Regions from separate parts of the Homo sapiens genome. Here region 1 is reported to be linked to region 2. Evidence: microRNA targets listed by miRTarBase, many of them from high-throughput screens and not tested one by one. Region 2 holds a microRNA gene; the other region holds the end of a gene's coding sequence.
Evidence for each region. Region 2 holds the annotated microRNA hsa-miR-6746-3p (CAGCCGCCGCCUGUCUCCACAG, at 1,275-1,296, opposite strand). A microRNA usually pairs through its seed, bases 2 to 8, with sites in the 3' UTR of a target mRNA and lowers its output. Matches are read on the target gene's strand: a 7mer-m8 pairs with bases 2 to 8, a 7mer-A1 pairs with bases 2 to 7 and ends in A, and an 8mer does both.

Region 1 (3,398 bases), not on the chromosome of region 2:
CAGGTCTATCGAGTTTGATCTTATTCTTAAGAGATAGAATTGGGGAGTAGTTCTTCCATCCAGTATTGGGTAACCGGGGGGACGGAGATCCCCATCCTCATACCTTTGATTTGTGTAGCAGGACTGATGGCCGAGGGGATAATGTCCCCAGAAGGAACACAGACTCCCGCTTGGGTGAGATCCCCCGGAAAGAGGTGAGGGAAAGTCAGGCAGGGACCAGGGGAGAAAAGGGCTCTCACTGACCAGCTCCTTCACCTCTGCACACTCCTGGCTGGCCCCTCCATTCCACCCCTGCATTCTGTAGCATGGCCTTTCCTCCCTGCAGACTCATCTGGCCCTCTCCACGTGCATTTCCTCAGTGGGGTGGGGAATTGAGAGGATCTGACGCTGATTTCTTCCTCTCTCTTCCCTCAACTCTCAGATTCCCTCCCAGGCTGTCCCTCGCCGCCTTGCTACAGCCCCCAAGACTGAAAAACCTCCCGCACGGAAGAAAAGTGGGCACCCTGCCCCGAGTAGCATGAGGAGCCGGGGGGGAGTCTGGAGATGAGCCCCCCTACCCTCTCTCCTCTTTGTTCTCTCATTGTTGTTATTTTAATAAATGCTCATTAGTCTGTATCAGAGTCTCTGGCTCATAGGAATTTGGAAAATAGAGGTTTTGTAGGGAATCACTTCGTAAAGAAACCACATTTGGTTGAGTACTTTTTTTATATGTTACATGTTTATATGTCATTTCCTGTGGGAAAAGACATGAATGCTTTGGAAGACGGTCTATGACAAGATTTGGAAAGTTGGGGCGGCTAAGATTCAGTGGACAAAGCTAAAACCTGCAGAGCAATGAACTCTGGGTGGTAGTGGAATTATGGGTGATTCTTAGTTTTTTAATACGTTTCTGTATTTTCCAAATTTTCTAAAACAAGTATATGTTACTTTAATAATCAGAACAGACCCAAACTTTAATAAGAGTAAGTTATTGTATAAAGAGTTTGAGTTAAAATTTGGTTGTTGGGGAGAAAGTTTTCTAAGGGAAAATAATTCTTTCAGGTTGCATTTGTAGGATTCAGATTGGCAGATTCTACTCCAGCCAGCAGACATATTGTTGCTATAGTCTTCACGCTTACAGCTTTAAAACGTGTAAAAGACTAGAGTGCTGGGTCCTAATTAAACAAAAGAGTTTCTGCACAGCAAAAGAGACTGTCGACAGAGTAAACAGACAGCCTACAGAATGGGAGAAAATATTCTCAAACTATGCATTTGACAAAGGTCTAACATCCAGAATCTATTAGGAACTTAAATCAACAAACAAAAAACAAATACCTCCATTAAAAAATGGGCAGAGGACCTGAACAGACACTTCGCAAAAGAAGACATGCAAGCAGCCAACAAACATTTGAAAAAATGCTCGTTAATAATCATCAGAGAAATGCAAATCAATTTAATGCAAAACCCCACAATGAGATACCATCTCATACCTATCAGAATGACTATTATTAAAAAGTCAAAAAACAACATGCTGGCGAGGCTGCAGAGAAAAGGGAATGCTTATATAGCTGTCAGTGGGAATGTAAGTTCCGCCACTATGGAAAGCAGTTTAGAGATTTCTCATAAAACTTAAGAGTTACCATTTCACCCAGCGATCACATCACTGGATATATACCCAAAGGAAAATAGGTCATTATTCCAACAAGATACATGCATTTATATGTTCATTACCACACTGTTCTTAATAGCAAAGACATAGAATCAACCTAGATGCCCATCAGGGGTGGATTGGATAAAGAAAATGTACATATACACCATGGAATACCACACAGCCATGAAAAAGAATGAAATAATGTCCTTTGTAGCAACATGGATGGAGCTGAAGGCTATAATCTTAATTAAGCGCGTTAGTGCAGGAACAGAAAACCTCATACTACATGTTCTCCTAAGTGGGAGTAAACATTGAGCACATGTGAACATAGACTTGGGAACAACAGATACTGCAGACTCCCAGAGCAGGGAGGGAGGGAGGGAGGGGGACGCGGGTTGAAACACTACCTAATGGTACTATGCTCACTACCTAGGTGCAATATACCCACGTAACAAACCTGCACATGTATGCCCTGCATCTAAAATAAAAGTTGAAATTGAGGCTGGGTGTGGTGGCTCACACTGTAATCCCAGCACTTTGGAAGGCCGAGGCAGACAGATCACTTGAGGCCAAGAGTTCGAGACCAGCCCGGCCAACATGGTGAAACACTGTCTCTATTAAAAAATACAAAACATTAGCCGGGCATGGTAGTGGGCACCTGTAATCCCAGCTACTTGGGAGGCTGAGGAAGGAGAATCACTTGAACTTGAGAGGCAGAGGTTGCAGTAAGCCAAGATTGTGCCACTGCACTCCAGACTGGGTGACAGAGCAAGGCTCTGTCTGAAAAAAAAAAAAAAAGAGAGTTGAAATTGAAAAAAAATAGACTGCTGGCAAGAAAACTAAACCATGTTTATAAAACTTCCATTTAAATGCTCACTAAAATGGACAAAGAAAAACAATACTAGGGAAGAAAATAACGTAGACATGAAATTTAAAAAGGCCCCAAATTCATGGTACAAACACTGAAAAGCACTCAGTCAAACTGAAACTGGAAGAGGATATCCTACCTTGAGACTCACACGCAGCTCTCAGCTCTGGCACATGGTGCAGGGTAGTGGTGATGGCAGGTACAATTCTGAAAGTGGTGTTGGCAGGTAAGAGGTGGGTGTTTGAGGGACAGAGTTTACCAGATTCTGAGAAGAAGGCAGGGCCCTTCTATCTGACCCTGAGTTATACACATGATAGGATGTGGATTCATAGAGTGTTTTGTACTAATGTTTGCATTTTACTTCCACCTAAGTAACTTTCTAGCCCCCAGGGGACGGGCAAAGGAAGAAAAGGTGAAGATGAATGACCAGACATGTGGGTTGCCCTGCTCAGCTGTGTCAGAACGGCTTGATCCTCAGCCCCGCACAGGACCACTCTCTGGCATGCACCAGCGGAGAAACTGGAGGCACACTGGCGCAGGAGCAGCCCCAGGCTTGAGGGCTTTTCCAGCCCTGTCTGTTTACCCACGTATGGAAATGTTTACTTTTCTATTTTTTACCTTAAATATGTAACACTGGTTTGACCAAACTCTCAGATTCATGGCACACTATCATCATTGGTAGGTGATGGTTTGCTACGGTTTTTAATAGCTGGTAAAGTGAACACCCAGTTCATTCTCCTCATTATCTCCTGGATTCCCGCCTACCGCCATCAGTCAGTATGCCCTACATTTTTCTTGACGTGAAGCACAGCCTGGAGAATATTCCCTGAAACAGCTCTTTAAACGCAATCCAAAAAAGGCATCATGCTGACTTAACCATGTTATGAGGTGAGTAAAACA
Region 2 (3,398 bases):
AGCTGGCGGCCCAGAGCAAATCCTGCAGAGGAGGGCAGAGGCGATACCGAGAGGTCTCCAGGTGCCCGGAGGTCTGGAGGCCTGGTGGGTGGGAGGAGGACCTCAGGCATCCAACCCTTCTGCCTGATTTGCCTCAGAGCCCAGGACAGGCCACCACCCTCTCTGGTTTTCTCAGCTGAGTAAAGGAACAGGGTCCTTGCCCTGCCAGCTCACGAGGCTGATTTTAGTGACGAAGGTGTCATGCAGGGTGTGTTGGGGAAGACCCTGCCAGGGACACAGATGCCTGGCAGAGTCAGCCCAGCAACTCCTCCTGGGAAGACACCCTCACCGAGAGAGACCCACACCCCCCCTGTTCCTCAACCCCCCCCCACCACACGTACAGTCACGGGCACACTCGCTCTCCTGCTGCGCGCACACATGTGAGCCACACTGTTGCACGCATACATGTGAGCCACACTGTTGCACGCACATGTGCACCCTGTTTGCCTTCATGGGCAGGTACTGTCCCCCGAGGCACCACCTCCTGCCACGGCAGCCGTATGCCCGGGGTCCTGGGCAACCCCACTCACCGCCCACTGCATGCACACCAGCATGTACGCCAGATTTTCCACTTCAAAGTTCACCAGGGTGAGCAGCGGCGGGCCGACTGCAAGAAGGGGCATGAGAGTGTTCAGGAGTGGGGCTGGGCTGCCAAGGTGAGTGGGCGCCAGAGTGAGGGGCTCTGTTACTCCAGGAATGCCCCTGGGACGTTGGTGCTGGTCACATCCAGCTGAATGACCCCATATCACCCCCAATTCTGTGTCCAAGCCTCCCCAGGCTGCCCTTACCCCACCACCTCCCACCACCCTTCACCGCAAGTCAGGGCCAGACTTGAGTCCTCACTCTGTCCGCCCCAACAACTGCCCAAAGACTCTAGGGCTCCGGACCACTCTAGTGAGGGCAAGAAGAAATTCTACGTGGGGCTTGGGGAAGCTCCCAGCAGGGCTGTGATGGCCCGTGGCTGCAAGGTGTCCCAGGCACGGGAGACAGCTGGGGCAAAGGCATGCTGCTGGGAGAGTGTGTACAGACTGCAGAGGCTGGGAGGATGCCATGACCAGGGAGACCTGACAGACGTGCCCCGCCCCAGGAAGTGGCTGGGAGTGGTCCAGGACAGCAGGGAGGACAGTGCAGGCCCAGGCACTCCCCCACCCCAGAAGGACAGATGGACACTCACTCAGGAAGAAGTACAGGTGCTGCTGGTTGTAGGGTAGGTATCTGCGTTTCTTCTTGCCATACTGTGGAGACAGGCGGCGGCTGGAGACAGCAGCTCTCCAGGCCACCTCCTTCTCCCGGGCAAGGTCACGGGGCTGGCTGGGGCCAAGGGTCAAAGGCAACTCTAGATTCTAGCAAGCGGGCTGGTCGTCCCCAGCAGGTTGGGAGGTGGGAAGGAAAGACACGGGGGCAGAGCTTGGCCCAGCCAGAGTGGAGGCCAGATCAGGGGCTAGGTCAGGGGCAGAGTGGGGACCCAGTGCATTAGCTCCCCCTCAGCTGCAGGCCCAGCCAGAGGTTGTCCACGTCCCTCCCCACCCACCTCGACGGATGACTCCCCCAGGAGGAAGACGGGCGCCACCGTCACGTCTGGGTCTTTGTGGAAGATGTTGGGCTTGGCGTGGTGCTGGAAGTGGCGGAAGTTCCACCAGTGGGCGGAGAAGCCCTGTGGAGGAGGAGGGGGCTCTCAGGGCAGGCTGTGCCCCCGACTGTGCCCACACACTTGGGCAGACCCAGCGCCACCCAGCACCTGGCTGACCACCCACCCCACCCTCACCTTTAGCTGCCCCATCACGAACTTCTGGGCCACGTGGTTCCACCAGGACTTCTTGAAGATGGAGGCATGGCCCAGGTCATGCTGCAGACACCAGGACTGAGCCTGGGGAGAGAGGCAGGGTCAGAAGCTGTTGGGAAGGACGGAGCCCGCCAGGGCCTGGGGCCCCAGTGAATCCTTTCAGCTTGCAGGGTACCCCCGTGCTAATGCTCCATTTCAAGACCCTTGTGGGCCAGTGTCCTCTTTTTACAGATGAGAACTGAGTCCCAGGGAGGTGGAGGGGCTCGTAAGTGTCATGAAGCTGCAGGGCAGCAGCCTCTGGCTCAGTGGCCCTGTGCTTGATCGGAATCTGTTCAAGAAGGAACTTCTTGGCTCATCTGGAATGCAGCTTGACCCACAGACATGCCTGATGGGCCTTCAGACTGTTCACTCATTCATCTGTTTATTCATCCATTCATCCTTTCATAGGTCCATTCATTCATTTAGCAAATATGTTCACAATGCCCAGATGCATGGGGGCCCACGTCTGTTGGGCAGTTAAGGTGGCTGCAACACAGAACTGGGGTCACCTGAGAGATGGCCAGGATGAAGGCGGCCAGGGCACTGGGCACCCAGCCAGGACCCAGGAGGTAGATAAGGAGCCAGGCCAGCACCTCCATGGCCAGGATGTGGCCCAGTAGGAAAGCAAAGAAGGTGGGACTGGCATCAAACAGCTTCATGTCCTCGGCTGCCTGGTGCAGGGCTCGGAAGTCCTCGACCAGCTGCGCCTGCCATAGCAGAGGGGCCGATCAGCCAAGGAAGAAATTCCTCCCCACCCCCATTCTCCTGGAGCCCCAGCCGCTCCTCCCATCGCCAGGCCCAAGGGGTGTGGGCAAAGAGGAATGAAGTGACAAGAGTACCCAGCCCGGGGTGTGAGCTGGAGCACTGGCTGGTGGTGAAGCCTCCTCTCCCTCCCAAAAGGTATGGGGTGGGTAAGACGCTACAGCCAGGAGAGAAATCAGTTCATCAAAATCCTCCTTTTGATGGGGACACTGGGCGACAACAGGGAGGGAGCTTGCCTCGGGATCCAAACGGGTGCCTGGCTAAACCAGATCTGGAGCCCTGGACTTCTCAGGGCATCCCTACAGCTTCACTTTCAACTGCCTGCCCCCTGGGAGGGGAGGGCAGGCTCAGCCCTGGCTCTGCATCCCCTTGGGCGAATGCCGAGGGAGCTGCTCCTGGCCATGTGGCAATGTCTCCCAGCCCTCCAGCCATCCCCCTCCCTCAGGGGCTGAGCCTCTCCTAGGGCTCTGGCTCACATTCAGGGGTCCATCCTGGCTGGGTTCTTCCGGAGCCAGCTCTCCAATCAACAGGGGCTGTAGGAACTTGCGCACAAAATTGAGATCTTGATGGAAGGCACGGAAGGCATCCTGAAGGAGAGCAGACAGTCAGGCGGACAGACAGACACAGCTGAGTAGCACAGCGGCAACCAGCAGAGACAGGCGGAAGGACTACGGATGGATGGGCAGAGCAGACGACAGGCGGACAGGAAGTCAGCCGGCTGATGAACAGTCAAAGACATGGGCCCTCCCTGGTCCTCCCAGGGCCCCAGGTTGTC

Region 1: miRTarBase lists CNTROB as a target of hsa-miR-6746-3p. Seed matches in the 3' UTR shown: 8mer at 793-800.

Annotation. Positions count from the first base shown.
Region 1 is chr17:7,948,964-7,952,361 of GRCh38, forward strand. It overlaps CNTROB (centrobin, centriole duplication and spindle assembly protein), which reads left to right. Exons shown (of 19, transcript NM_053051.5): 18 at 122-194; 19 at 422-957. The coding sequence ends at 547. Among named protein-coding and RNA genes, the nearest start is that of CNTROB, 18 kb to the left of the region's middle.
Region 2 is chr11:61,876,942-61,880,339 of GRCh38, forward strand. MIR6746 (microRNA 6746) reads right to left here and starts at 1,337; the gene lies at 1,275-1,337. FADS3 (fatty acid desaturase 3) reads right to left here. Exons shown (of 12, transcript NM_021727.5): 2 at 3,100-3,210; 3 at 2,371-2,568; 4 at 1,805-1,906; 5 at 1,571-1,693; 6 at 1,214-1,274; 7 at 570-646; 8 at 1-22. RefSeq lists an enhancer at 2,226-2,935.